Linked DNA regions of Homo sapiens: regions 2, 3, 4, 5 and 6 are each linked to region 1. The links come from fine-mapping of genetic effects on gene expression. A gene starts in region 1. Each other region holds a variant in brackets. All regions are shown on one strand. Distances are from middle to middle.

Evidence for each region.
Region 2: its variant is fine-mapped to the expression of PARP14 in whole blood (INTERVAL, PIP above 0.99).
Region 3: its variant is fine-mapped to the expression of PARP14 in whole blood (TOPMed, PIP above 0.99).
Region 4: its variant is fine-mapped to the expression of PARP14 in whole blood (TOPMed, PIP above 0.99).
Region 5: its variant is fine-mapped to the expression of PARP14 in whole blood (TOPMed, PIP above 0.99).
Region 6: its variant is fine-mapped to the expression of PARP14 in whole blood (INTERVAL, PIP above 0.99).

What each region holds. Positions count from the first base shown.
Region 1 is chr3:122,678,736-122,683,811 of GRCh38, forward strand. It overlaps PARP14 (poly(ADP-ribose) polymerase family member 14), which reads left to right and starts at 2,104. Exons shown (of 17, transcript NM_017554.3): 1 at 2,104-2,335. The coding sequence starts at 2,149. RefSeq lists enhancers at 1,092-1,211, 1,615-2,387, 1,812-2,211, 2,753-2,842, 4,228-4,307 and 1 more and a silencer at 2,452-2,501.
Region 2 is chr3:122,734,705-122,739,780 of GRCh38, forward strand. No RefSeq gene overlaps it. Among named protein-coding and RNA genes, the nearest start is that of PARP14, 56 kb to the left of the region's middle. The variant A/G (reference allele first, on the strand shown) is at 3,008.
Region 3 is chr3:122,913,006-122,918,081 of GRCh38, forward strand. It overlaps SEMA5B (semaphorin 5B), which reads right to left. Exons shown (of 23, transcript NM_001031702.4): 13 at 2,768-2,885; 14 at 2,435-2,616; 15 at 853-996; 16 at 529-676; 17 at 194-419; 18 at 1-56. Among named protein-coding and RNA genes, the nearest start is that of LINC02035, 29 kb to the left of the region's middle. RefSeq lists an enhancer at 335-835. The variant G/A (reference allele first, on the strand shown) is at 1,957.
Region 4 is chr3:122,757,801-122,762,876 of GRCh38, forward strand. HSPBAP1 (HSPB1 associated protein 1) reads right to left here. Exons shown (of 8, transcript NM_024610.6): 4 at 1,424-1,560. Among named protein-coding and RNA genes, the nearest start is that of HSPBAP1, 33 kb to the right of the region's middle. The variant T/C (reference allele first, on the strand shown) is at 2,026.
Region 5 is chr3:122,719,554-122,724,629 of GRCh38, forward strand. PARP14 (poly(ADP-ribose) polymerase family member 14) reads left to right here. Exons shown (of 17, transcript NM_017554.3): 15 at 702-835. Among named protein-coding and RNA genes, the nearest start is that of PARP14, 41 kb to the left of the region's middle. The variant T/C (reference allele first, on the strand shown) is at 1,962.
Region 6 is chr3:122,748,607-122,753,682 of GRCh38, forward strand. It overlaps HSPBAP1 (HSPB1 associated protein 1), which reads right to left. Exons shown (of 8, transcript NM_024610.6): 6 at 3,985-4,068. It overlaps LOC124906363 (small nucleolar RNA U13), which reads left to right and starts at 1,766; the gene lies at 1,766-1,869. The variant A/T (reference allele first, on the strand shown) is at 2,459.

The DNA.
Region 1 (5,076 bases):
TCTACAGCAGGCCACCCCCACCCCAGGCCCTGAGAAGACACGTGCTTCCCAGGAAGAAAGGATCAGAAGGCAGATACCCACAGGAAACAGAGAATTGTGAGAGGATACGCATTCTTCAAGTGAACAAGGCAAAAATAACTTGCAGAAAACAAAGTACTGCAGGAGCTAATGCCGTTCAACAATTTGCCCCTTCTAGAACTTTCTTTCCTTGGCTTTCAAGACCTGCCATCCTGATCCTCTGATAGCTCCTTCCCAGTCCACCCAGGCATGATAAGCAGACCTCGGTGGTAAGACACATTGTCGATAATTAAATAAATCCTCGAAAGTAATCCAGAAATGCCTCTGACTTTATTTCTTATACAATAATTATGTGAGGAAAAAGGGAAACTTTTTGCTGAGTTCTGGAACCCCAAACTCAGGGGAGAGTGGGAGAGGAGGAGTGCTGATTTTAGTTGTGGTTTGGGATGAGATGTAAAGGCCCTGGGGAGAAACAGTCACCAAGTCTGGCTGAGGGCGCTTGTCCTCCCGTCTTCCGCATGCGGGGGTCCAGAGCAGTTTTGGATCAGATGATGAGCGCCATCTGCAGGTAGCAAGCTGGAGGCAGGAGAAAATATCTGTGTACTGTTTAGGATTATTACAGAGCCGAAATAAAAGCCAGGTAAACCATTTGGCCCATCTCTGGTTCTCTTCATTCTGAAATTCAGCCCGATCCTGTAACCCCACAACCTACTGCCTGGCTCCTTCTTCCCCTTCACGGTCACATTTCTGCAAAGAGCGTGTTACGCTCTCTGCTTCCACTTCCTTCCCTCCCTTTCAGTCTTCAGTAGCTGCCATCTCCCTCTCCTCCCTCCTCACCAGGAGACTATGCTTGCCGCTCCTCAGCAGTCCAGCAGACACTTCTCTGACCTGAGGTATCGGTAGCACTGGAATGATAATCCCCCCGCCCCCCTCGACTTGCAACACTGCTTTATTTGGGGTCAAGGAAACACACAGCCCCAGCTTCTCTCCCATCACTCGGCCTCCCCTCTTGCAGATGCCACTATTATCCAGCCACTTGCACGGGCCATCCATGGCTGACCATGGAGTCATCCTTGAGCTTCTCCTTCTCTCAAGGCTCACATTCTTCAGCAAGTCCTGCTTTCACTATTAATTGAGAATCCTCGTTTTCTCAGTTCTTCTCTGCCAGCACCCCAGTCTCAGCCACCCTTGTCTCTCACTTAGGACACTATGGTAGCCACTTGGCTGATCTCTCTGCCTCCACTCTAGCCACCACGCAGCAGCCGGAGTGATCCTGTACATGTGAATCACACCGTGGAACCCCACTTCCTAACCCTCCAAGGCTATCCCCTGATATCCTGGGGTTATCAGGTTACATGTCACCGCCCTATAAACCCTCCCTGAGCCGCCACAGCTGGACTAGGAGCCACTCCTCATCTGTTCCAGGAACACAAGTATATTCTTTCCCAGAGCACCTATTGCCCACTGTGTTCACCATAGCTCCGTGAGCTCAGCGAGGGTTCAGTGAGTGAGTGCATGGCGCCTAGTAAATATTCCACAAAAAAAACTGTGAGTGTAATTGTTTCCCCCACATTTCTAGACATGTAGTATTAACAGATCAAGGAACAGAAAGCAAAACAGGGAAAGCAACGTAAAATTCTGATAATCACAATGATTGCTGAAAAAGTCCCCAAATAGGCAGCAAACATTCTAAAGGGGCCACAGTTTGTGAGTCATTTTATTCTTTTGTAAAGGGTCGGCTTGCGGCAAAAATTAAATGATCTTTGCGTTTGGGCAAGGTCTGGTGCCCCAAAGCTGCCGACTTGATCTGCGGTTGGGGCGAGCGGCAGGTAGGGGGCCCGGAGTTAGGAGGGGGTGTGGGAGCCCGTGGAGCACAGGTGAACTGAGGCCGCCTTCCCGGGGCGCCGCTGGCCAGCCCCAAAGGGTTACTTTGGCCTTGGCTGTGGGCCGAATGCGAAGGTGGGGAGGTGGGCGGGGGATGACTCTGCCATTCCTGGGTCCGCTGTGTTAGGCTGAAGGCAAAAGGAAACCAAGGCCTGGGAGTTTTCCAGGAAACGAAAGCGAAAGAGTCAAAGTTAGCGGCCCGGAGTTGGCGCGGCCCCTGCAGTCCGGCGGAGAGCGGAGCTGAGGATGGCTGTGCCCGGCTCCTTCCCGCTGCTGGTCGAGGGCTCCTGGGGCCCCGACCCCCCGAAGAACTTGAACACCAAGTTGCAGATGTACTTCCAGAGCCCGAAGAGGTCGGGAGGCGGCGAGTGTGAGGTCCGCCAGGATCCCAGGAGCCCATCCCGCTTCCTGGTGTTCTTCTACCCGGAGGACGGTGAGGGGCGCGAGGGGTGGGGTGAGGAGGGGGCACCTCTGCCCTCCCTCCAGGGAAATGGCGGCAGGGCACGCACGGGAGGGTGACCCGCCCGACTTCGGCGGCTGCTGTAGCGGAGGTGGCCGGGGCGGGGGCGGGGGCGGGGGCGGCAGAATGGATTCCGAGCGCACCCGGGGCGCTGCGGTTCCCCGGCGCCCTGCGCTTCCAGGCGCTTAATGGCGCGGCCCGGAGGTGGCGGCGGAACCGCGCAAGTAACTCTTTATCCCTCGATCGTTTTCTGTCTTTCCCTGTTGTGGTGGTGTTATTGTTTGTTGTTGTTGTTGTGGAAGTGAGTCTATCCTCTTATCATCCTTTTCTGTCTTTTCCTGTTGTTATTATTCTTGTGTGGGGAAGGAAACTGATTAAGAAACGTGGCAAGTCACAGAGATTCCTTGTGGTTCTTGGAGATTCCCAGGGGTCCCGGGGTCACTTGGGAGAGGGGCAGAGGCGCTACCTAAAATCACACTGCCTGAATGTCAACGTAGAGCCGTCACAGCGGCCACATTGGAGGGGCTGTCGATCGACCACAGGTGCCCATTGTCGAGGGCCTGCCGGGGCCTCTTCTCCGAGTCTCTAGTGGCCCTCAGATTGGGAGCAAGGATGATATTCTGAAGTGATTGTGGGTTGGGAGATTTGAGCTTTGGAGGGAAAGTCGGCAAAGTTCCCTCCTTACAGACCCACCACTACTTGGTGGGCCAAGAGCCCAGAGGTGATCTGCTGGCTCAAGGGCCTCCCTGGTCTGCAATGGGAAGCCAGTGACCTGCAGCTCCCAGAATGGGCACCTTTTCCACTGGCATCTTATGGATGATGACCTATCGGGATCTAGTCAACCCCTAATTCCGCTTTCATGTCGCTAGATTTGGAGAAGCATTCGGGCCAGAGGAGAGGCAAGGAGGCTGAGGCTGAGGCCATGCAATTAGAGTGCCCAAGCAGGGATCCAAAAAGGAAAAATGAAACAGAAAAAGAATGGCGCACAGAAGGAAGGAAGGAGGGGGACAGGAGATATGCTTGGCTCATGGCCCTTATGAAAACAAAATACCATGTTTTCCTAGGATTAATTTTACCAAGGAGTGCTCAGAAGGGCAACTGTGTGATATTAGTCATTTCTCTTTTGGGTGTCACTTTTCCTTGAGGGTTTTCCCCACTTTGACTTCAGAGGTCAGCATCACCATCGATCTGGCCCTTAAGGATGCTTCTTTCTCCTTTAGATTCCATTATCCTTAGAAGTAGGTCTGACCTGCATCTGAATCACCTGGAGAGCAGGTTAACCAGGCACCTTCCCAGCTCTGTTTTAGAGATTCAGGTTCAGTGAATGTGGGGTGGGTGGGAAGCGTGTATTTAACCGGCAGCCCAGGTGACCCTAATGTGTTCAAGTTTCAGAATTTCCGTAGTTAATGTTAACCCCAAATGAACAAAAAGAAATAATTATACAAATTTAAACAGCATGAAAATACAAATAGCACAAAGTATAATTTTGTGATGATAAAATAACTCAATTCTAGCCCTCCAAGCAGAAAAGATTTCAGTCTTCCTGCTGGGCTTCCATCCTTGACCGGCCCCAGCCCACTACTCCTCTTCCTCCACCCCCAGGCTGCTCCAGTGGCCCCTCTTGTCTTACCCCCCAGCACAGATGACCCAAAACTTATTAAAACTCAAAACCGGCCGGGCGTGGTGGCTCACGCCTGTTAATCCCAGCACTTTGGGAGGCTGAGGCAGGTGGATGACGAGTTGAGGAGATCGAGACCATCCTTGAGCAACATGGTGAAACCCTGTCTCTACTAAAACACACAAAAAAATTAGCCGAGCGTGGTGGTGTGCGCCTATAGTCCCAGCTACTCAGGAGGCTGAGGCAGGGGAATTGCTTGAACCAGGGAGGCAGAGGTTGCAGTGAGGTGAGATCGCACCACTGCACTCCAGCCTGGCAACAGAGCAAGACTCCATCTAAAACAAAACAAAAACAAACAAACAAAAAGAAACAAACAAACAAAAACAAACTCGAAACCTAGTATGGTCTAAGTTCTTGGGGGTGGAAAATCCCTAGTCAGTTTCAGTTTCCTACTTGAGGAACCACTTTCTCAGTAACAAGGGTCAGGAATTTGCTAACAATGAATGACCTACGCTTGAAGTCCCAGAAGTGCATTCTTCTTCTGCAGAGGACACTCTCCACCCTCCATGCCAGGAAGTGGCCTCAACAGGTGCGGGCCCATAGCATAACCTGATTTGATTCATATAAACTGTAATAGGCAGATAACAAGAATGAGCCCACCAGCACTTCTCCGTATTTATTCATGTATAGCAAATAGAAACAAATGGGAAGCTGTATCTCACTTTTATATAGTTCACTGGATTTCTGAAAAGTTGGTGTAAATTGACATAACATTTTAAGCCCTGTTTCAGATGTGTCTATTTTATCATACTTTACCAACATAGTTTGGTTCCTGGTTGTTGTCGGGTTCCTTGTGGTAAGAACCCATCTTCTCCTTAAATAAAATTAAATGTTGATGATCTAAAGTTGGTGCAGGTGGAAGACTGTCCACTTGGGTAAGGGAGGTTGGACATCAGAGTTTCAGCTTTTTCCTCCCAGATTGACTTTCTCCTTTTTGGAGATCATATACCCATATTATTACCAACTGTTCTCCTGAAATACTTGTGCCCATAAATATTGCCCACAATCTGAGAACAGACTGGCACATTTAGATGCC
Region 2 (5,076 bases), 56 kb after region 1:
TGGGGGCCAATATTCAACATTCTTAAAGAAAAGAATTTTCAACCCAGAATTTCATATCCAGCCAAACTAAGCTTCACAAGTGAAGTAGAAATAGAATACTTTACAGACAAGCAAATGCTGAGAGATTTTGTCACCACCGGGCCTGCCCTAAAAGAGCTCCTGAAGGAAGCACTAAACATGGAAAGGAACAACCGGTACCAGCCACTGCAAAAACATGCCAAATTGTAAAGACCGTCAAGGCTAGGAAGAAACTGCATCAACTAACGAGCAAAATAACCAGCTAATATCATAATGACAGGATCAAATTCACACATAACAATATTAACTTTAAATGTAAATGGGCTAAGTGCTCCAATTAAAAGACACAGACTGGCAAATTGGATAAAGAGTCAAGACCCATTAGTGTGCTGTATTCAGGAAACCCATCTCATGTGCAGAGACACACATGGGCTCAAAATCAAGGGATGGAGGAAGATCTACCAAGCAAATGGAAAACAAAAAAAGGCAGGGGTTGCAATCCTAGTCTCTGATAAAACAGACTTTAAACCAACAAAGATCAAAGGAGACAAAGAAGGCCATTACATAATGGTAAAGGGATCAATTCAACAAGAAGAGCTATCCTAAATATATATGCACCCAATACAGGAGCACCCAGATTCATAAAGCAAGTCCTGAGTGACCTACAAAGAGACTTAGACTCCCACACAATAATACTGGGAGAGTATAACACCCCACTGTCAACATTAGACAGATCAACGAGACAGAAAGTTAACAAGGATACCCAGGAATTGAACTCAGCTCTGCACCAGGCGGACCTAACAGACATCTACAGAACTCTCCACCCCAAATCAACAGAATATACATTTTTTTCAGCACCACACCACACCTATTCCAAAATTGACCACATAGTTGGAAGTAAAGCACTCCTCAGCAAATGTAAAAGAACAGAAATTACAACAAACTGTCTCTCAGACCACAGTGCAATCAAACTAGAACTCAGGATTAAGAAACTCACTCAAAACTGCTCAACTACATGGAAACTGAACAACCTGCTCCTGAATGACTACTGAGTACATAACGAAATGAAGGCAGAAATAAAGATGTTCTTTGAAACCAACGAGAACAAAGACACAACATACCAGAATCTCTGGGACACATTCAAAGCAGTGTGTAGAGGGAAATTTATAGCACTAAATGCCCACAAGAGAAAGCAGGAAAGATCCAAAATCGACACCCTAACATCACAATTAAAAGAACTAGAAAAGCAAGAGCAAACACATTCAAAAGCTAGCAGAAGGCAAGAAATAACTAAAATCAGAGCAGAACTGAAGGAAATAGAGACACAAAAAACCCTTCAAAAAATTAATGAATCCAGGAGCTGGTTTTTTGAAAAGATCAACAAAATTGATAGACCGCTAGCAAGACTAATAAAGAAGAAAAGAGGGAAGAATCAAATAGACGCAATAAAAAATGATAAAGGGGATATCACCACCGATCCCACAGAAATACAAACTACCATCAGAGAATACTACAAACACCTCTACACAAATAAACTAGAAAATCTAGAAGAAATGGATAAATTCCTCGACACATACATCCTCCCAAGACTAAACCAGGAAGAAGTTGAATCTCTGAATAGACAAATAACAGGCTCTGAAATTGTGGCAATAATCAATAGTTTACCAACAAAAAGAGTCCAGGACCAGATGGATTCACAGCCGAATTCTACCAGAGGTACAAGGAGGAGCTGGTACCATTCCTTCTGAAACTATTCCAACCAATAGAAAAAGAGGGAATCCTCCCTAACTCATTTCATGAGGCCAGCATCATCCTGATACCAAAGCCTGGCAGAGACACAACAAAAAAAGAGAATTTTAGAACAATATCCTTGATGAGCATTGATGCAAAAATCCTCAATAAAATACTGGCAAACCGAATCCAGCAGCACATCAAAAAGCTTATCCACCATGATCAAGTGGGCTTCATCCCTGGGATGCAAGGCTGGTTCAATATACGAAAATCAATAAATGTAATCCAGCATATAAACAGAACCAAAGACAAAAACCACATGATTATCTCAATAGATGCAGAAAAGGCCTTTGACAAAATTCAACAACCTTTCATGCTAAAAACTCTCAATAAATTAGGTATTGATGGGATGTATCTCAAAATAATAAGAGCTATCTATGACAAACCCACAGCCAATATCATACTGAATGGGCAAGAACTGGAAGCATTCCCTTTGAAAACTGGCACAAGACAGGGATGCCCTCTCTCACCACTTCTATTCAACATAGTGTTGGAAGTTCTGGCCAGGGCAATTAGGCAGGAGAAGGAAATAAAGGGTATTCAATTAGGAAAAGAGGAAGTCAAATTGTCCCTGTTTGCAGATGACATGATTGTATATCTAGAAAACCCCACTGTCTCAGCCCAAAATCTCCTTAAGCTGATAAGCAACTTCAGCAAAGTCTCAGGATACAAAATCAATGTGCAAAAATCACAAGCATTCTTATACACCAATAACAGACAGAGAGCCAAATCATGAGTGAACTCCCATTCACAATTGCTTCGAAGAGAATAAAATACCTAGGAATCCAACTTACAAGGGATGTGAAGGACCTCTTCAAGGAGAACTACAAACCACTGCTCGATGAAATAAAAGAGGATATAAACAAATGGAAGAACATTCCATGCTCATCGGTTGGAAGAATCAATATCATGAAAATGGCCATACAGCCCAAGGTAATTTATAGATTCAATGCCATCCCCATCAAGCTACCAATGACTTTCTTCACAGAATTGGAAAAAACTACTTTAAAGTTCATATGGAAGCAAAAAAGAGCCCGCATCGCCAAGTCAATCCTAAGCCAAAAGAACAAAGCTGGAGGCATCACGCTACCTGACTTCAAACTATACAAGGCTACAGTAACCAAAACAGCATAGTACTGGTACCAAAACAGAGATATAGATCAATGGAACAGAACAGAGCCCTCAGAAATAATGCCAC[A/G]TATCTACAACTATCTGATCTTTGACAAACTTGACAAAAACAAGAAATGGGGAAAGGATTCCCTATTTAATAAATGGTGCTGGGAAAACTGGCTAGCCATATGTAGAAAGCTGAAACTGGATACCTTCTTTACACCTTATACAAAAATTAATTCAAGATGGATTAAAGACTTACATGTTAGACCTAAAACCATAAAAACCCTAGAAGAAAACCTAGGCAATACCATTCAGGACGTAGGCATGGGCAAGGACTTCATGTCTAAAACACCAAAAGCAATGGCAACAAAAGCCAAAATTGACAAATGGGATCTAATTAAACTAAAGAGCTTCTGCACAGCAAAAGAAACTACCATCAGAGTGAACAGGCAACCTACAGAATGGGAGAAAATTTTCACAACCTACTCATCTGACAAACGGCTAATATCCGGAATCTACAATGAACTCAAACAAATTTACAAGAAAAAAACAAACAACCCCATCAAAAAGTGAGCAAAGGACATGAACAGACACTTCTCAAAAGAAGACATTTATGCAGCCAAAAAACACATGAAAAAATGCTCATCATCACTGGCCATCAGAGAAATGCAAATCAAAACAATGAGATACCATCTCACACCAGTTAGAATGGTGATCATTAAAACATCAGGAAACAACAGGTGCTGGAGAGGATATGGAGAAATAGGAACACTTTTACACTGTTGGTGGGACTGTAAATTAGTTCAACCATTGTGGAAGTCAGTGTGGCGATTCCTCAAGGATCTAGAACTAGAAATACCATTTGACCCAGCCATCCTATTACTGGGTATATACCCAAAGGACTATAAATCATGCTGCTATAAAGACACATGCACACGTATGTTTATAGCGGCACTATTCACAATAGCAAAGACTTGGAACCAACCCAAATGTCCAACAACGATAGACTGGATTAAGAAAATGTGGCACATATACACCATGGAAAACTATGCAGCCATAAAAAAGGATGAGTTCATGTCCTTTGTAGGGACATGGATGAAACTGGAAATCATCATTCTCAGCAAACTATCGCAAGGACAAAAAACCAAACACTGCACGTTCTCACTCATAGGTGGGAATTGAACAATGAGAACACATGGACATAGGAAGGGGAACATCACACACCGGGGCCTGTTGTGGGGTGGGGGGAGGGGGAGGGATAGCATTAGGAGATACACCTAATGCTAAATGATGAGTTAATGGGTGCAGTACACCAACATGGCACATGTATACACATGTAACAAACCTGTACATTGTGCACATGCACTGTAAAACTTAAAGTACAATAATAATAAAATGAATGAATAAATAAATAAATAAATAAAGGACTATACCAAGAATCACAGCTACCTTACTTTGGCCACATTCTCTGTCCCAATGTACTTGATGAGGTATTGTCAATGAGGTCTCATTTTTATTATTCATTCATTCAAATATTTAATAAGCACCTACTACATGCTGGGTACTCATTGCGGCTCTACAAATAACAGCAATAATCACAGTCCCTACCCTTAAGGAGTTACATTTTGGTTGAGAGAGATAGTAATGAAATTCATAGGTAAATACATAGTGGTCCGATGGAGATAAAAGCCACAGAAGGGCTCTTTTCAGGCCCTTCTTTCCCTGGCATGCTTACATAACAATACCCTCCTTCCCTCTGTGACAACACATACTTTCTTTGGATTTACTGATACTCATTACCTCGAGGACAGTAGGATAGCCAGCAATCAGTTCATCTCAAAGGTGACTTTGCATATCTTTTCTGTTGTGTATTTGTTTCATGCATGGTTACTCAGAGATCAATATGCTTTTCTAATTTCTAAATTCCTTCTTAGACAGTAATGGTAATTAATTATCCCTGGATCTTGCAAATGTAATGAGAGTGGGATCAATTTCACTGAGCTAAGCCTTTAGTCACTGTTTGGGGAGTTTGAGTCCTTTTTAGCCCTAGGATTGGTGTCCCTAGATGTCCAAGTTCCTTGCCTAAAGAGGCCTCATACTGAACCCACAACTACTTTTCTCCTGATTGGTATCCTACTCTGAATGACAGGGGAT
Region 3 (5,076 bases), 230 kb after region 1:
CCCGCTCACCGTGTGCGGGGAGGTGCTCCCGCTGCGCAGGAGGACCTCCACCAGGGCTGCGGAGGGGCTAGGCCTCAGCGACTGGGCGCCCGGCCACCCCGACCCCGGCCTGGGCCTCCCCGGGGCTCCCGCCCCCGCCCTCACCGCTCCGGGGCTGGGAGAGAGGAAGGAGGGGGCGCCGGGCGCGGGGTACCGTCGGTGTCGCAGGAGCCGGAGCCGTCCGCGGGACAGGTCCTCGTCTCGGTCCTTCTCCTGCCGAACTGCAGGCCGTGCGGGTCTGCAAGGGGCGCGCGGCAGGTGAAGCGGAACCGCTGCTCCTGCCGTGCCCCGCCCTGCGTCACGTTCACGGGCAGCCACGGCGTCCAGGGGGTGTTGCGCCGCACTTCGGGGCAGCCCTCGGGGTTGCACGTCTTGAACTCCTGCGGGTGGCGGCAGAGGCAGCTTTAGAACCCCACGGCCTCCAGGCCCGCCCTCCCCTCGGCTCCAGTACCCTACACCGCGCCCCTGGCCCACGGCCCCAACCCTCACCACGCCGCAGCCCAGGCAGGAGTTGCCGTTCTCGCAGGCCCGACGCCGCGACTGCATGCCCCCTCCACAGTTGCTGCTGCACTTGCTCCAGGAGCCCCAGGAAGCCCAGAAGATGGGCACCGGGCAAGGCGTGTTCTCATTACAGAACCTGGGGTCGGGGGAGAGGCGTCAATCCAGGGAGGGGGACCCCCTTCCCTGACGAGAGGTCCCTGGGAGTGCAAGACCGGAAAGGACGAGAGTCCCCGGGATCACGAGGAGAATCCAGGCCACTTTCTGGGGGGCCCGGTTAGTCTGGGACCTCAGAGCAAGCCTGTTCTCCCTCACCGTTCCTCCCGGCTCTTGCCCACGCAGATGCGGCCCCCGTGGCGGGGAGCAGGGTTGCTGCAACTTCGCTGGCGGACCTGGAAGCCGATGCCACAGGACGTGCTGCACAGCGCCCACGATGACCACGGGGTCCACGCCCCATTCCTGGCGGGGTGGGAGGGGACAGAGACAGATGCCCCTCTGAGCCCTAGCTTCTTAGATCTAGTCTGTCTCTGGGCCGATGTATTTTCTACTGCTGTCAGAAAGGGCTGGACAGTGACATAGAAATATCTTCTCCTAAACAGGTCATCTCAGGCAGACTCGCTCATCCATCCGTTCATTTATTCCTCCTTCAGACATGTATTGAGAGCCTTCTTCTATATATCATGCTGTGCTCAGGACTAAGGACGTAGAGGTAGGACATGGCCCCATCTCACAAGGGCCAAAAGGGCAGACTCTTTAGAGAAGAAGGCCCTAGTCCCCTTTCCAGTCTGCAGCCTCCCTTTCAGCCTTCCTGGCTGGTCCCAATCCTTGCACTGTAACCAACACTCTGTCCCCTGTACTATATTGCACATGCTTTGCTCCAGCCTCAGACACTGCTCACTCATGCCTACTCTGACGCCAATTTTCAAATCTGGGCTCTACCATTTGCTGGCTGTGAAACCCTGGGCAAGTTACTAGAACCTTCTGTAACTTAACTTTAAAGTACTCTTAACTTTAAAGTAAGGACAATGATTGTATTCCTACCCCCATGAGGTTGCTGTGAGGGCTACATTAATAAATGTGTATGAAATAGTTTTTTTAAGAGTGTCCAAGGCTGGGTGTGGTGGCTTATGCCTGTAATCCCAGAGCTTTGGGACGCTGAGGTGGGAGGAACACTTGAAGCCAGGAGTTTGAGACCAGCCTAGGCAATATAGTGAGACTCCTGTTTCTACAAAAAATTTTTAAAAATTAGCTGGGTATGGTGTGGGCACCTGTAGTCTCAGCTAATCAGGAGGTTGAGGCAGGAGATTACAGTGAGCCATGATCACACCACTTCACTCCAGCCTGGGCAACAGAGTGAGACGCTGTCTCAAAAAAAGAAAAAGTGTCTAATGGAGTCCCCAGGTACCAGGCACTGTGCAA[G/A]CTCTGTATATACCTTATCTCATTTAACCCTCCCAACAACTCTTGGGTGGGTACTATAACCCTCACTAAGAGAAGCTTAGAGTGGTTAGGTGGCTAGGCCACGGCCACACCTCCAGACAGTGGCAATCCGGAATTGGCACTAGATTTGCTTGCCTTGCCATCATCCCATGCTGTTCCTCATGTTTGGGATGAGACTTACTGAGGCACGCTTTTGTCTAGGAGTGACCTCCATGCCTGCCCAGCATTCCACTTTGCATCAAGAGTCACCAAGAGATAGAAACTTCTCTCTCACTAGCGTGGAAACTCCCTCAGGGCTCAGGTTTCCTGCCTCAGATATTAGCCACCTATCCAGTCCCTAGCACAGCCCTGAAGTGGTTTCTGTCCCTTAGTGCAAACACCCAAGTGAGGGGTCCCCGTTTCCCTAGTTCTCCCCACCCTGGTCCAAGGCAGACACCATGTAAACCCTGTCCTCACATACCTGGAGCAGTTGGCGATGTGGATGGCTGGCCCCAGGCAGTCAAGGCCCCCACAGCGGGGTCGAGGGGAATCACAGGATCGAGCTCGACACAGGCAAGAGCCTGAGTTGTCCCCATCCAAGTGCTCACATGGTTGCCATGGTGACCATGGGCCGAAGCCCCCATCCCGTGTCACATTCCGCACCTGAAGACACACATGGGAGACAGTACCCCTATTACCCAAGCCAAGGGCAGGGAAGTCATAAGATCTCAGGGGATTGGGGGAATATTGGTGGGGAGTCATAGCCTGAATTGAAGGAGGGGTCTGAGATGGGAGGACACAAGGGGATTCTCACAGGACAGGCGGTGATGTTCTGGGTCCAGAGGCTCATGTTGGAGCTGTCCTCGAGTGTGCTGCAACGTTGCTGCTTCCCGTCCCAGCCACAGTACGGGTCCCGGGCCCCCAGGCATGCCCTGCCAGACAGACGTCCTGAGATTCAAGCCCACTGGCTTCCCAGCCTCACCTGCATCTCAGGAACACACGTGAACACTCCCCTCTGTGCACCACTTTCCATCCATTTGTCCTCCATGATAATAATGAAGTTCATTGGGCCTTTACTGTGTGTAAGGCATCATTTTAAGCACTTTATAAGCATGAATTAATTTAAATCCAGCACCCCAATGAAGTGGGTACTGTTATTATTCCCATGTTATCTGGGGGAAACCCAGTGACCTGACCCAGGACTCAAACCCTCATCCTCCAGAGACTGCACGTTTAAAAGAGACGGCACTGCTTTCCCCAAATATGGGTGCCCCATACTCCTCACCCACAGCCACAGGTGCAGATGTGGTTAACAGGAACCCAAAGAGGAAATGCCTCCCTGGCACATGCTATGATCATAGAGTCATAAAACATTAGAGATGGAAAAAGCCTTACAGATGGTTCTCAACCCTGGCTGCACATTAGAATCACCTGAGGAGCTTTCAAAACATACCAATACCCGAGCCCACCCCACTCAACACTCTCTAGGGGCGAAGTAGTGTTTAAAAGCTCCCTGGGTGATTCTAATGGGAGCGAGGCTGAGAACCTCTGGGATCCACTATACAACCTTTTCATTGTACCAAGGCAAGGAGATAAGTAGTTTCCCTGAGATCACACAGATCATAGGTGGTGGAGCTGGGCCCAGACCTAAGCTTTCTGACCACGCTTTTCCCCTCACACTTCTGCTTCCCACGGGAGGTTGTGTCTGATTTCACACACTGAATATGAGCCCATCCCTCAAAACACAGCGCAGGATCGGCAGACACCTGGGTACTGTCCATGGTCACCTGGAGCACCCACATGCTTGTGCTGCTTAGTGGCAGGAATCAGAGTCTAGTGCTTTAGCATCTTGAGAATGAGCTCAAGCTGTAGGCGGTCACATCCCAGTTCTCGGTTCCTCAACCCTGAGGGCTGGTCTCTCTACAGTGGCCCCAAAATGATAACTGGTTCACACACTGATGCATGCCCCAAATGCCTCCACTTCTCATAGTCCAGAGCTTCTTTCTTCTTTTTCTCCTTTTGATGTCTTCATGTAATTTTTTAACAGAAAAATCTAATCTCCACTAGTAGGACTTGAAAGGGGAGAAAAAGTCTGTGGGGATTATGGAATCAGGCTTTGCTATCCATTGCTAAGTACAGAGAGTATCCAATCCTGGTGCCAGAAGGAGGGTCCCTCCAACATTCAGCCCACTGCCAATCCTGGGGGATACCTCGATCCCTCTGGTTCCTGTCCCCAGCTTCCACCCCCTTCTGAGCCAGTCTGCTGAAGAGGGTCTGGAGAGAGCACTAAGCATGGGCTCAGAAATTGGAGGTTGGAAAACAGAAGAGGCTTTGGAGAAGGATGTACTGGACTGCAAAGAAGATGGAGCCTGGCGGGGAGTTCACAACATTCTGTGAGTTTGCAGGGGGATCTTCCCATTGGACAAAGGGGCCAAAGATGCCTAGGGCTAAAGAGATACACCAAGAACAAACGAAGAGCTAAGAGTTGCAGCTCTTGGCATCCCTGGGGTAGAATTTTTCTTATCTCTTGAAGCTTCAGGGAGAGTAACCTGTCAGGTGAATTCTTAACTTGCAGTGGGTTCAATAGATCATGTCAGGCCCCAGAGAAAAATGAGGTTAATTATACAAAGAAGAGGGTGGGGCTTCTCCTTGTCAGCAAAGGAGGGCAAAGAAGACAGTACTATCTGCTGCTCTTGGCCAACCCGCAGCCTCATATAAGCGAGGCAATCATGGGAGCCCGGTGAGCACACTGTGGCCCACCCAGGAATCCAGAATACTTAACTGTTGCTGGGGTATCTGTTTCCAGTTTATTCACTCAAGGACAATTTGGGTAAATTGTACAAGATAAATGTGGTCATATTTTCCTCTGGGATCAATGGTTTGATTTGAGGGTGTTTTATCAGTAGAGTCCATCAAACTGGACATCGTGGGACTACATGCAACACATGTACACAAGTAGTCCCAGCAACCTGTGGTTTTGAGACTCTGCTTACTGGCTGACATTGGGATCAAGAGGACTGCTAGCAAATTCAACCAATGAGAACTCAGCAAAGCCCACTCCTGAATTTATTTCCTTCAGCACTCAAAAAGGGGCATCAACCTCTTACAGGCAGCTTACGTGGC
Region 4 (5,076 bases), 79 kb after region 1:
GTTTTTCCAACTTGAATTTCTTTGGCTTGTTTCCAATTCAGAACACATGGACAGCAGCTACTTAAAATGTTGTCTCTCTTACCAAGTTTAAGGTTTCAGCCTGTTAACTCCACAAGGATAGAGACCACACTCATCTGATTGACTCTTGCATCCACAGCGTGTAGCTATGTACCTGACACATTCTATGCCCTTTAATAAAGACGGAATGCATCAGAGAGTGGACTAACTTCTACCATTCTGTAATTCTCAGAGTTCTTCACATGTGAAATGTATCCACAGACATACTGACTATTTCTCCTGAATCTGCTCATAATCCTTTTCACATCTAATAGGTCTGAGAACTTGCACATGACCTTTTCTGTTTTACTCTCTGTGCTGCCCTGTAAATGTCCCACATGACCAGGAGAAAAGACTGGGGCATCATTAATTAGGGGAAAATAAGGCTGCACATACATCTGAGTACATCCTCCAAGTGGCACAAACACTTAGACTCTCATAGAACTCCAGAAACCAGGTATATCAAAAGCACTGCCTATCCCTCGTATCTTCTAGAGTCCACAGATAGATGGAGACAAAAACTGACCTAAGGTAACAATACACTGTATTGTGTCAAGTAGGCACAAACTAAAATTTAGAGTTGAAAGCGTCCAGTATTTTTCAAACCAGGATCGCTGGCATCCCTTGGAGAGGAGCTTGAGGGCAACAGTGAAGCCTCTTCCTTTCAACAAACTGCTCTGCTCTTATTTATTTAGATTTGAAGAAAGGGTGTTCCCATTTTTAAATAAAAGTTTGAAAACTACAAACTCTTATGTAAAAAAGAAAAGCTAAGCATAGGCTGGGCATAGTGGCTCACACCAGAACTTTGAGAGGCCAAGGCAGGAGTATGGTTTGAGGCCATACTTGGGCAACACAGAAAGACTCCATCTCTAAATAAAAAGTTTTTTAAATTAGCTGGGCATACTGGCACACACCTGTAGTCCTAGATACTTGAGAGGCTGCGGCAGGAGGATGGCTTGAGGTCCAGGAGCTATGATCATGCCATTGCACTCCAGCCTGGGCAACAGAGCAAGACTGTCTCAAATGTCTCTAATTTACCAAAAAAAAAAAAAAAAAAAAGACCAAGCAGAGAGCTGTCTAGCTGACCTGGGAGTGGAATCTCAGAGTTCTAGAATAAACTCTCTGAAGACAATCCTGATCATGACAAGGCACGCACCTGTAAACCACCATTTTAACTGTCCTCATTTCACAGAGGAGAAACCAAAACCAGAGGTTAAGAGGTCTGCCCTAATCATGAGGCAGGCTGACAGGATGGGGCTGGGACTACACCTTGGGGTATTGCCCTATTCTCTCTGCCACCCCTATTGCATGCATGCACATGTGCGTTCCACACACACACACACACACACACACACACACACATTACCTTCCTTGTACCTGGAATACCAAGTTACAACCATAGGAGTCCAGATGACAGGGTGTGTGGGCTCCCAAGGAGCCAATCCACAATGTACTTTCCTGTCCATTTCTTCCAGGAAACCCGAAGTCAGACCATTTCACATCCTGTTTTGAAATAAAGTTGCAATCCATCAAGAACTAACCAACTTCTCTGTATGGTAATGCTGCCCATTTTCACTTGCACATCTGTTATTTAGCAGTTGGAATATTCTATTATGGAAAATGCTACAGATGGAAGAGGTTAGGTTTCCAGGGCAGTTCAAGAAATCTTTTTAGCCAATAACATATTTGAATAACCACACTAATAGTAATCATTCAACAAATATTTACTGACTACTTACAACATGCCAGGCACTGTTCTGGAAGCTTGTAATGAATCAATGAACAAAAGAGACAAAATGCCTACTCGGATGAAGCTTACATTTCAGAGTTGGAAACAGACAATAAACAGACAGGATTATGCTGATATTTAGGGAAAGCGTGTTTTGGGCAGTTAGAACAGTGAATGCAGCGGAAATGGCATTATTTCAAATATCTCTGAGACACAACCGAAGAAGTCAGAAAGCCGTA[T/C]TTCCTCTAAGCAGTGCAGATATTTGTGTACATACGCAACTTACTAACTTTGTGTACTTCAATGACCACATAAATGAAGACTTCTCCTACATTAGTGGGGTTACTTAAAACTATCAATGCTGGAGCCTTAGCTCATACCTACTAGATCAGTCTTCAGATGAGGGTGTCAAAATACATCTTTTGAAATATACATCCATGGATGGCTTTCAATATACTCCCCAAAGTCATGAACTTCTTAAGTGCAATGATCTTTAGAACAGAGACAGCATAGTGCTCTGGACTTAAGACTCTCCATATGCCTGGTTCTGTGAGCAAATCCTGCCCAAGTCAACTACTGGGAAAAGCCTATACTTTTAGAAGCCGATGGCGCATTTGCAGCACAGAAAAATAGGGTCACACATAAACCCAAATCCATGTGATTAAACAGATTTATAAGCTAGAAAAGAAAAAAAACATACTAGTGAACCAGGCATGATGGCTCTGCCTTATTTTTATTTTAATCATGAGGTTTTCCTTTCAGTTTTAAAAAATAAAAGCAAAAAAAAAAACACCCCACTTCTATGTGCAGAACATCGTTCTCAATGCTGACACTCCTTTTATCAGTAACTACAGTCTAAATTTTCTATTTTTAGAGGGAAAACATTAACAGCTGTATTCAAAGAGAAAGGATTTTAAAGAGAAATTTAATGGATGGTTTTGAGGAAGACTAGAAAGAGCATTTTTTTTTTTCATTTTTGCTTTGAGTGATGAAAATGGCTGAATACGTGCACATAATTAATGTCTGTCATAGAAGGGGGAATTTTTGCAAGGTCAGCACCACTGTAAATGCACATGGCTCACATGTGGCAGTTCCAGTGGGTGGCAAAAATCCTGTTCTCTCTGCATGTAGCCTATAAGCTCCATACTGGGAGCTTACCCCTGTTTTCTCAATGCCTAATTTAGTACCTGGCTCAGGGTTACAGCTTGGAACACACTGGCTGCTTGGGAGGGAAAGAAGAATCTGTTGACTTATGATGGTTAAAATAGTTCAGGCCAATGACATTTTTGAGTACCTACCATATACGTGGTATGATGCTGGGTGCTGGGGATACAAAAATTAATATAACACAGGCCAACCCTTCAAGTCTAATAATGAGTGATAATCCCATAAACAGAGCCTTTCAATATGATGTAACAAGCGCTCTGACACAAGTATGCAGGGAATGCTTTAAGATCACAGCAGGAGGGCCCTGCACCCAGCCAGGGAGCTTAGGGGAGGCTTCCAATTAACCTGGTCCTTGTTGAACAATTTACCACACCTCAGTCTGAGGAATTTAACTAAAGGTAGCTGAAAGCCATTCAGTATAAAAAGGAAAAAAGAGAGACTTGCCTTAGCTAAGAAGAGATAGGTCATGTGATTCTTAATCTTATAGATACATCCCTTCAGGAATCTAATGAATACCAAAGCCCCTTCTCCTCAGAAAAAAGCACACACGAAACTTTATATATACTTTCAAAGAGGTGACAGACCAACCCCACATGAAAAACCCTGTTCTAGAGCCCTGCTTTGGAAAGAATCACTGAAGGTTTTTCTACAGGGTGAGGTTACTGTATGAGAAACTGAGGAGAGACTTCCCTGGCCTCCTGTCTAACAGTAATAATGACTTAAAAAGCAAAACTGTCAGCCAGGTGCAGTGGCTCATGCCTGTAATCCCAGCACTCTGGGAGGCTGAGGTGGGAGGACTGCCTGGGTCCAGGAGTTCAAGACCAGCGTGGGCAATGTTTGGTGAGGCTCTGTCTCTACAAAAAGGTTTTTTTTTTTTTTTTAACAAATTGGCTGGGCGTGGTGGCATGCACCTGTGGTCCCAGCTACTTGGGAGGCTGAGAAGGGAGGATCACTTGAGCTTGGGAGGTCAAGGCTTCAGGGAGCTATGTTTGCACCACAGCACTCCAGCCTGAGTGCCTGAGTGACAGAGCAAGACCTTGTCTCAAAAAAAAAAAAAAAAAAGCAAAATTGTCAGTGTAAAAATAGACAGCATTGAGAGTTGGGATTCTCTTCCCAATTAAGTTCAGCCACTTATGGGTAGTCAAATGTCTGAAGTCAATGTGGGCCCAGGAATCTGTCTTGAGTCTTGCTAGAAACAGGAGGCCCTGTTTGAGTGCTGCATCTGTAAAACCAAAAAGGGTGATCAGTGGGGTGATCTGTTCTGGAGTCTACTCATACATACCTCAAGAGTTGGAAAAATCTTTAAAAATCATCTATTCTCAGCAAGTTCTATTCTACACCATCCCTGAAAAGAGCGACAAGTAGCTAGCTAGTTGACCACTTACTACAAAATCAGTATCTACTTCCTGGTAGCTTACAGAGGAGGGTCCTAGATCTGCTTTCTATAACTAAAGAGAACAAGTTTATTTCCTGCCAAAAATTGCTATTTTTATCAGAAAACTGTCCAACTTCTCCTTTATCTTTTTTTTTTTTTAACCTAGACACAGCAGCATTAACTTTTCCTTCCAATTGCTCTTCTCTCAATTTCCTTTACTTTGTCAACAGCCCTAAAGCCTGGCTCCCAAACTGAACCCCAGATACAGTCTACACAGAACCTGTATCCATGGAATTGTAACATTCCATGACCCGCACATCATACCATTAATGCACTGTCAGACGGCACTTTTCTTTTTAAGCAACTAAATTATACCAAGGCTAATATTGGGCCTCCCTGTCTCTTACTTGCAGACTGTTGCTTAGCATATCTCTTCAGCCTTGACTTATAGTCAAGGACTAGCCTAATATTTCCTAATTTTCCTTGTGATTTACTATTTGACTTATGGATTATTTGGAAGTGTAATGTTTAATTTCAAATTTTTGGGGATTTTTCAGCTATCTTTTTGTCATGAATTTTTAATTTAATTCTGTTGTGGTGAGAGAACATAATTTGTATGAGTTAAATCCTTTTAAATTATTGAAACTTGTTTTATGGCCCAGAATATAATCAATCTTGATAAAGATTCCATATGCACTTGGAAATAGTGTTTTCTGTTGTTGGGTGGAGTGTTTTATAAATGTCAATTAAA
Region 5 (5,076 bases), 41 kb after region 1:
TCCTACCTTCGAACCAGATTAAGTCCCCTTTGAAAATGAGTAAATTGGCTTCCATTACACTATATTTATCTCCTGTGAGATCAGTGTGAACAGATTCCCGAGACTCTGAGCAACCCTGGGGAAATGATAAATCACATATAGTATTCTGCTTAGCAGAGGAGAAGACAGAGCTGTCACCACAGCTTGTCACATAGCAAAATCTGCCACCTAACTGCCTCTTAAAGATGCTATGAAGAATAATGAAAAAATAGATGTAGAGTGCCTGTGGTGGTGATGGTGAGGAGTTCTGGCAAAAATCCATGCACAAACAAAACAGCAACTACTTAGAACACTGTAGGGAAATAATTTATTGTGAAATTGTGACTACTAGAGATTGAACAGAAAACACAGATGAGTTATACTGCACCAACAGTTCTCAAATCGTAGTATGATCCAAACTTAGGAGGCAGACATACAGGCTCTGCCCCTCACAGATGCTGATTCAGTTGATCTGTGGCTTTCCTTTTTTTTGTTTAACAAGCATTCCAGTTGGTTCTGATGTAGGTTGTCTGTTGTTCATGCTTTGAAAAGCGTTCTCCTAGAAAGATAAGGAACTCTTTGAATGCTTAGAATTGGGAGATAGTAAAACAAGAACACAGATACTAAATGTTCCAGAGTGTACCGGGGATGTATGAGGGCATCCTCAAATGTCTCCTTTGCAGTTGACATCCCTGCACACTGGAGTGATATGAAGCAGCAGAATTTCTGTGTGGTGGAGCTGCTGCCTAGTGATCCTGAGTACAACACGGTGGCAAGCAAGTTTAATCAGACCTGCTCACACTTCAGAATAGAGAAGGTAAGCCTTCTGCTAGAATGCAGTTTCTGGATGGTGGAAATAAGTTCTGTCATGGTCCTATATAAAATCCATTTTCATTCACTTCCTATCACATTTTTTTAAACCCAGAATTAGAATTTGTATGGTAATTAGTAGTTCTAGATTCTACTCATGTGACCATAATTACTGAGGCATTAAGATTCTTGTGTCAGTGATTACAATATTTGATTGTAATATGATAGAACACTAAAGACATATATTTACTTTGTGAAGCAAGCTAATACAAATTCAAAGATATGGCTTTAAAATTGGATTTGATAGCTAGCAAATTCCACAGAGAGCCATGCAGAGGCTCCTTAGATCAGGACCATGTTACTCTGCCCCATTATTCACAGATCAACAGTGCTTCCTTGATAAAGCCAGCAGGCCTTTTCTCGTTTATCATAATTATTTTGGGCAGGTGAATGTGATGATTCGTGCCTGTAGTCCCAGCTATTGGGAGGCTGAGGTGGAAGGATTGCATGAGCCCAGGAGTTTGACGCCAGTCTGGGTAACATAGTGAGATCCTGCTCTCAAATAAAAACAACCAATTATTTTGGCATCTTCTTCCATTTTTAAACATTTTTGATATTGCTGTTTGAAATTATATTTTCCTTGACTTCTCTAGCAAAATTATTATGATTTTTTTTTCCTTGACTAATTTTCTTTTCATTTTTGCAGGCACGCTGTTTCTCTTCCAAACCCCTAATTCTAGCTTTATTCACGCCATTTATGCTTAAACGGTCTTTTGTCTCTGTACCTCACCAGGGAATATATTTACCCTTCTTGGATTCAACTATTAGTTCAATGTCAATAGCTCCCAAATCAACATTACCAACCTGGGTCTTTGACTCAAGCTCTAGAACATACTCCCAGTGGCCTAAAAAAATCTCCACTTGAGGCTGGGCACAGTGGCTCACGCCTGTAATCCCAGCACTTTGGGAGGCCGAGGTGGGTGGATCACGAGGTCAGGGGTTCAAGACCATCCTGGTGAAGATGGTGAAACCACGTCTCTACTAAAACTACAAAAATTAGCCGGGCATGTTGGCAGGTGCCTATAATCCCACCTACTTGGGAGGCTGAGGCAGGATAATTGCTTGAACATGGG[T/C]GGCAGAGATTGCAGTGAGCCAAGATCACGCCACTGCACTCCAGCCTGGTCGACAGAGTGAGACTCCGTCTCAAAAAAAAAATCTCCACTTGAATATCTAACTGCAAAATCAACTTCTCTAAAATCTAATGCATCATACGTAAGTAATTCTCTTTCCCTTTCCTTCCTCATTTCTGTTTTTGGTTCTACCACTTTCTGAGTAAAGCCGGAGATCTTTGATCCACCATAAGTCTGCCAGTAAGACCTACATTTTCTTTGCAAATTTTTCTTACTCTCTATTTGAACTGCCAACACTGTTTATTCATGTTGTTAAGTACATCATAATTTAAAAAGATTCAAAGTGCCCTACAAAGATATAAACTATACCTTCAGATAAAATAAATATACAAAGAAAAATGGTTAAAGAGAAAAGAATGGCAGGGAAAATAAGATAATACAGACGAACTGCTAGTTCTCAAAAATATATAACATGAGGTTACCAATTTGTCCCTGAGCTTCCTAGTAGACAAAGCAAGAAGTAAACATTCAGGTACAAGACTCATAATGTCCGTAAATCAAAAAGCAAACCATTTGATAAGGAGGCTCACAGCTCCTCACAATACTGAGACTGACTCCTGAGAGATTTCTCTTGTGGATCAAGTACTAGAGAATATCCTCAACGTCATCCTCACAATAAATTAAATATCAACTTTTATATCACTGTTTTTTTTTAATGTAAAACTGGTTGAACAAAACCGATGCCTGATTGAATGAAAACAATTCTATGAGGCACCAAGACAATATGATTCAAGTATGCAGCTCTATGATGGTCTATTTCTGAGATAACAAGTAAGTCTCACTCCAAGTACCAATTACTACTAACTGGTAGTGGCTGATTGGCACATTGTGATGAGATGCTAAGTTTAGATTGAGCAGGAATGAATGTTCTGCTTGACCAGCAATATCTACAGTGGGCCCTGTGGATGCCTGCTGTGTATTGGCAGACCCTGGCCAGAGAATTGATTTCAACACTTTTTTGCAGTGAAACCTTTTTTTTCAATAAAATCTTATGTGAAATCCCAGTGTATGAACCAGATAAAAGCAGAGGTGTGGGTAGTACTTAAGGTGCCTCCATGGAGGTCCCTAGAATTGTGAAAATAACATAAAAAATGGGTGGTCTGTCATCCTCTATGACTATTATGTCTTATGATTAAGGTTTTTAATATCCATAAGCCTTCCACTTAGATTCAACAATTGTGCCACTTTTGCTTTCTCTCCCTGTCTGTTTTTGCTGAAGCATTTGAAGGTAAGTTGCAGACATCATGATACTCCTATTTTAGCAAGTATCTCCCAATTAAAGACATTCTCCTAAATTATGGCAATGCCATTATCCCAATTAAAAACTTAACATTAATTCAGTAATATCCAATATGCATTTCATATTTTTTTTTTTTTTCCCCGAGACGGAGTCTTGCTCTTTCACCCAGGCTGGAGTGCAGTGGCGCGATCTTGGCTCACTGCAACCTCCGCCTACCGGTTGCAAGCGATTCTCCTGCCTCAGCGTCCCAAGTAGCTGAAATTGCAGGTGCCCACCACCACACCCGGCTAATTTTTTTTTGTATTTTTAGTAAAGATGGGGTTTCACCATGTTGGCCAGGCTGGTCTCGAACTCCTGACCTCAAGTGATCCCCCCGCCTGGGCCTCCCAAAGTGTTGGGATTACAGGTGTGAGCCACCACATCTGGCCACAGTCCATATTCTAATTTTTCCAGTTGTTCAAAAAAATCTCTTATAACTCCCCCTCCCCAACCCCAGTCTGAGTTCACACACGGTTTGGACATTATGTCTCCTTTGTGTCTTCTAATATAGAGTAGTACTCTTGCATTTAAAAAATTATTTTTCATGACATGAATTTTTTTAGAGTTTAAGCCAATTGTATTGTAGAATGTATCACATTCTGGATCTGTCATGCCTTGATTTTTGTGGAAGAATCCATGCCAGTTTTATAGATTCTAGACTTATCTGATTCTTGATAATATCATTTATTTCTCTATCCTCTTTATTTCTGGTAAGCTGAGTTAGGTTGAAAGGTTTGAGTAAATTCAGATAAATATTTTTTGCAAGAATACTTCATAGGTGATACATCACATCAGGAACCTCAGATGGTAAGGCCATCCCACTATTAATGATGCTAAGTTTGATCACTAGTTAAGTGGGTGACCACCATTTCTCTCCACTGGAATCAGTAGATTATCTGTGGGATGATACTTCGTCAGCATATGAGTATCCTGTTCCCCAACAATTTTGTACTGATTGACTTTCACTTCCATTGATGATCCTTGCCTGAATCCATCATTACACTGGAGGTTGCAGGATGTTGATTTTCTAATTCTGTCATTCCTTCTGTATATGTTATTTGGCATTTTTTTGAAGAATAAATGTTCTTTTTTCCTGATTTTGAAAAAAATCAGTATGTTATATTTAATTACAGTGATTATTCTGTTAGATGTACACATTATCCTCCATTTGGCTGGCAGGAAGTTGGGTCCCATGTCTTTTAATGACCCCATTAATCTTTGAGCATTTCTTTACTTTTTGCCATGAGATTTGTCTTGCTTATCCTGTACTTTCCTTGTCTCGTGCCTGGAATCAGACATTTTTCTAAGAAGCCATGTTACCTTTTAGTGGGGAATGGTAGTGAGAAACCAAAAGTCGTGTGTTGCGTGTGTTCACTGCTATTGAGGTGTTGCTGTTTCCAGGGTCTTTTGTGGCTAGAGCTAAGAAAATCATGAACTTGTATTTATGTTTTCTTTTTTTTTTTTTTGAGGCAAAGTTTTGCTCTGTCATTCCAGCTGGAGTGCATCAGCGTGATCATAGCTTACTGCAGCTTCCAACTCCTGGGCTCAAGCAATCCTCCCCACTCAGACTCTAGAGTAGCTGGGGCTACAGGCACATGCCACCACGCCTATTTTTTTTTTTTTTTTTTTTTTGTAGAGATGGAGTCCGTGTTATCCAGGCTGGTTTCAAACTTTTGACTTCAAAAGTGCTGGGATCCACCCACCTCTGTCTCTCAGAGTGCTGGGATTACAAGTGTGAGCCACAGCACCCAGCCATATTCATGTTTTCAATTAAAATTT
Region 6 (5,076 bases), 70 kb after region 1:
GGAGGAAACAAGCACTTTCACATACTACTAATGGAAATGCAAAATGGCACAATCACAATGAAGCTGAATTTGGCAAAACCTAACAAAATTAAAGATACATTTACCCTATGACATGGCAAATCCATTGTTAAGATCTCCCCCAAAGACACACTTCAACAAATATAAAACAACATATGCACAAGGTTATTCAGTGGCATTATTTGTAATTACAAAAGACTGGAAACAACCCAAACATCTATCCTTAAAGGAACTAATGAACAGTAGAGCACCCATACAGTGAAGTACTAGACAGTGGTTGAAGAAAAATATGAATATTTCTCTGTACTATTATGTAGTGAAATTCAAGATATTATTGTTGAAAAAAGCAAGGTATGGAACACTATAGTTTATTACTTTCTATGGAATAAAGGATAGAAAATTTAAAATATATTTGAATAAGTATATAAATAAGTAAAGACATATTTATATGCTTATGCACTTTGTACATATAAGACTGTTTATATACTTATTTACATATATAAATATATCTATTCATTTACTTACTTTTATATATAGATATAGATATATATGTTTACAAGAAACACTGGAAATGATAAACCAGAAATGAATAAAAATGGATCTCTATAAAGGTTGGGAAAAATGGAGTGGATGGAACAGGGATGAAAGGCAGACTTCCCTGAGTATAACTTTTAACATAGTTTTGACAAGTTAAATGTTCTACATATTTAAAATATTAAATTAGATCAAAATTTTAAAAAGGTAAATCCTAAAATTGAAAACAAACTGAAACAAATGAACTTAACTAAATATCCAATTAGTAAAATAACCATAAATGAAAAGAATTCCTTCACAATGACTCCTGAATAAAGGACTTTGTATCTATCCCTCTTAGTGATAGATACAGTCTAATAATAAAAAGAATTGCAAAGAAATCTTAATTTTTACTTGCAAGCTTTATGGTTAGTAGTAATATTACTATTTGAATTTTGGAAACATAAATTTGACATCTTTTTCTTTTTTTGAGATGGAGTCTTGTTCTGTCACCAGGCTAGAGTGCAATGGCGCGATCTCAGCTCACTGCAACCTCCACCTCCTGGGTTCAAGTGACTCCCCTGCCTCAGCCTCCTGAGTAGCTGGAACTACAGGCATGCGCCACCATGCCCGGCTAATTTTTTGTATTTTTTTAGTAGAGAAGGGGTTTCACCATGTTGGCCAGGATGGTCTCAATCTCCTGACCATGTGATCTGCCCGCCTCGGCCTCCCAAAGTGCCGGGATTATAGGTGTGAGCCACTGCACCCGGCCAAATTTGATATCTTAAAAAATATATTGCTGGATACAGCAAACAAGTAAATATGTTACTGGTTTTCTTTCTTTTTTTTTTTTTTTGAGACAGAGACTCGCTCTGTTGCCAGGCCAGAGTGCAGTGACTTGATCTCGGCTCACTGCAACTTCTGTCTCCCTGGTTCAAGCGATTCTCCTGCCTCAGCCTCCCGAATAGCCGGGATTACAGGTGCGTGCCACTATGCCCAGCTAATTTTTGCATTTTTAGTAGAGATAGGGTTTCACCATGTTGGCCAGGATGGTCTCGATCTTTTGACCTCATGATCCACCCACCTCGGCCTCCCAAAGTGCTGGGATTACAGGCGTAAGCCACCGTGCCCGGCCTTATGTTACTGTTTTTAAGGACCCAGATTTTCAGTGTTAAGAGAAGAGATAAAAATACAGAAACAAATAAAAAATTCTATCATGTTAAACTTGAATTAGATACTTTTATAGTTCATAAGTCTGATGATTGGGTGTCATGCTCATGTGTGAGACATGCCTCCCTTAAGCCTTGTTATGACGTCAGCATATTACCTGTCTAGATATATTTTTTAAACACATGAATTAGAAATATAAATACATCAATATCTATCTATCTATCTATCTATCTATCTATCTATCTAATCTATCTATCTATCTCACATTCTAGCTACATCACTGAAAGAGCCTAGAAACACTGACACCCAGGAGCAATGAACAGATTTAGAGCTGAGATCTCAGTTTCTAAATGCCATTTCCTACAAAAAGAACTGTGGCTACCTGGAGAAATGATTGACTTCCAAGTGTGGGGCACTAAAGGAGAAAGGGTATCCTGGGATATCTTCCTGTGCCAGAAAGCCAGGATACACTCAAAGTCTAATTAACGGGGACATATCAAAAGGGCACAGGCCAGCTTGAAGTTTCACTAAAATGACAGATAAGACCCAAATTTAAAATTATCTTGTCAAGCTGGAATGCTCAACCAAACCAATATGATGAAAATTAACAGGGATGACTGTGAAATACTGGATTTAGAATTAAAATCAGCTTTATAGGTACAGGATAGGATTCAACCTGCCTGACAGCAGATCATGTGAAAAAAAATCACAGATATTTTAAAGTTGAATATGAAACTAAAGTGAGATGAGATTACTT[A/T]AAAAACTAACCCAATATTACAAGCAGCACTGGAGATATTTAGGATCGAGATCATGTGGGGTAGAAATCTTATACTCTACCAAATAAGGCCTACTGATATTCAGTTTTAGGCACTATATATTAAGAGAACTATTCTTGACATAATAGCTCTCCCTCCTCCTCATAGCAATTTCTACTTTTTAAACACTTCCCATATGCCACGCACTATATTAGATGCTTTTACAATGTGTTGTCCAATTACTCTACTGAGGTGGGTTCAATTATAATCCTCATTTTACAAGAAAATGGAGGCTTGAAGAGATTAAGTAATTATCTATGTTAGACAGCTAACAAAGGTAACCTGTATCTTAAAGTTGCCTGATTCCAAAGTCTATGGCCAGAATGGTAAAAAGTCTGGAAAAAGGAAAAAATCACCCATAAAAACACCCCATTAAAGAAAGTAAGAGGTTTTGAGCATGGAAGAAGAAAAGATTATGGAAAAACTTGGAGGTATTTTCAAATATTTTAAAAAGATGACAGCTCTACTCTTTAACAACAAGCGAACTTCCTTGGGAGGTGAAGCACCTGTCAGGGCTATTGTAGATATGACTTTGGCATTGGGAGTGGAAGTTCTCCATGGATTCTACCTTGACATCTGCTGCAACTCCAGTTCAGCATGCTATAGGCGAAATTTCTGTGACGCTACTGATCTCCTGCCATACCTCTCACTTAAGCCTCAAGGGCTACAACTCTTCACTAAGCCCACACAACATAGCTTTCTGTAACAATATTCCTTCTGTTCCACTGATTCCAAAGCCATTCCTATTAGCAAAGGATAGGAAAAACTAGACTAGGGAGAGGATACGGCTGTCAAACAGAGCAGAAAGATGCAATCCAGGCTTCAGGTCAAGGAGAGCAGAGATGCAGTCAGGGCCTCTGGTTAAAGAGAGGCAGCTGCAATTAAGGCCCCAGTTGAAGAGACAGACTTGAGCATAACAAGCAGCTATTCTAATTGTCAAATAGAGCAGGCAACCAGGATTAAGCTTAACACATCAGAGGGAAAGGCTTCTGGCAGAAATGAAATGATAAAAACCTAGCACTGAAAGAAAGACTCCGCTTTGAGAATATGTAGAAGCCAAGACAGAATTCTGCAATTAGTAATGACCCTGAACCAAGAAGCAGGTATTTCCAGCCCAGATGGTGTGAAAGAGGAGCGGCAACAAGGGACACATATCGGCAAATCTGGCCAGGCCCAATACAATTTTCCTAACAACACTGGTCAAGGGAAAGGACCCTGCATGCCAGCATCAGGCGCATTCTGTGTCCTTAAAAGAAAGAGAGTGGCACACCACTAAAATTCCAATTTCCAACCTAAACATCCATTAACAGAAGACAGAATGCATACGTTATAGTGCACTGCAACAAAAAAATACTGAAGCATTGGTTAAAAAAAATTAATTACCCAGTTGTACAGCCAGACCTTATATATCTTTTAAAAGCATGATTTGCACTTACTTAAAAAAAAAAAAAAAACAACGAAAAAGTACCAGTTCAATCCATGAGTTTATACTGACAGTGACAGGATCAATGGATTCTACGTAATGCCACCAGTGTCTGGGAACAAAGAGAACCTGAAAACCAAACAAAGAATGGTTAGCACAAGAACAGGACGTTTCATTTTTATGTCAGAATCAGACCCTAATTGAGGCTGCTAGGAAAAAAAGGAATACAAATGAATTCACAATAATATTGCTGGAGAAAAGTAAAGTAAGAAAAAAAACCCCGCAAACCTTTTTTCCTTTTATTCCTTTTTTATTGACAAGTTCACATGTTCTACAAAGGATACTGCCAGCATCTCTATTCTCTTTAATCCTGGGCCTTCTTTGTCTGCACCTAAATCTTAGTACATGATTCTGAGATTCTAATTTTTCCTCCTTTCCGTCACAAAATAGTTGCGTGCATTCTGAGAAAGGGCATAGGTAAAACACATAGGACGTGGCTTCTGTTTTCTCACAGCTCAAAATCTAGCCAATGAGAAGATAAAGTATAGAAAGGTGGCATTATAGAAGTGGTAAATCAGGGGACAATGGTGTTTCAGAATTTCAGAGGTGGGTGAAACAGGCATGAACTAGGGAGGTCAGGGGCAACATGGATGGAAGAAGTGTGATTTGAACCCGGGCTAGGAGAGAATTTAGACACAGAAAGAATGAGGACATGCCAGGAAGGATAAGAGGTACAGGTGAGGGAGGTAGGACTACAGAAGATAGCAAGTAGGTCAGTCTTACTATCACAGAGGGAATAATGGGAGATAAGGTAGGGGAATTAGTTTAGGGACAGCGGACTTCAGAATCTAGATTTTATCTGGTAGGCACTAGGAGTTGTTGAGAAATTCTAAGTAGGGGGATGGTTAAAATAGTGGTATCGAGAGAGTCTGAGAAGGACAGGAGATACTTGCAAAGGTCCACTTATTAAACGTTAAGATATAAATAGGAAGGTATAATAAACAAAAGCAATGGGCAGAGTCAAGAAGGATGGCATCTATCCAGACTCAGTATGAGATTTCCTATTAAGAGCAGAGTAGATGGAAATGATGTGAAGCTTTTGGGCTTCACATTAGGAAACTACTGGTATTTGCTGTG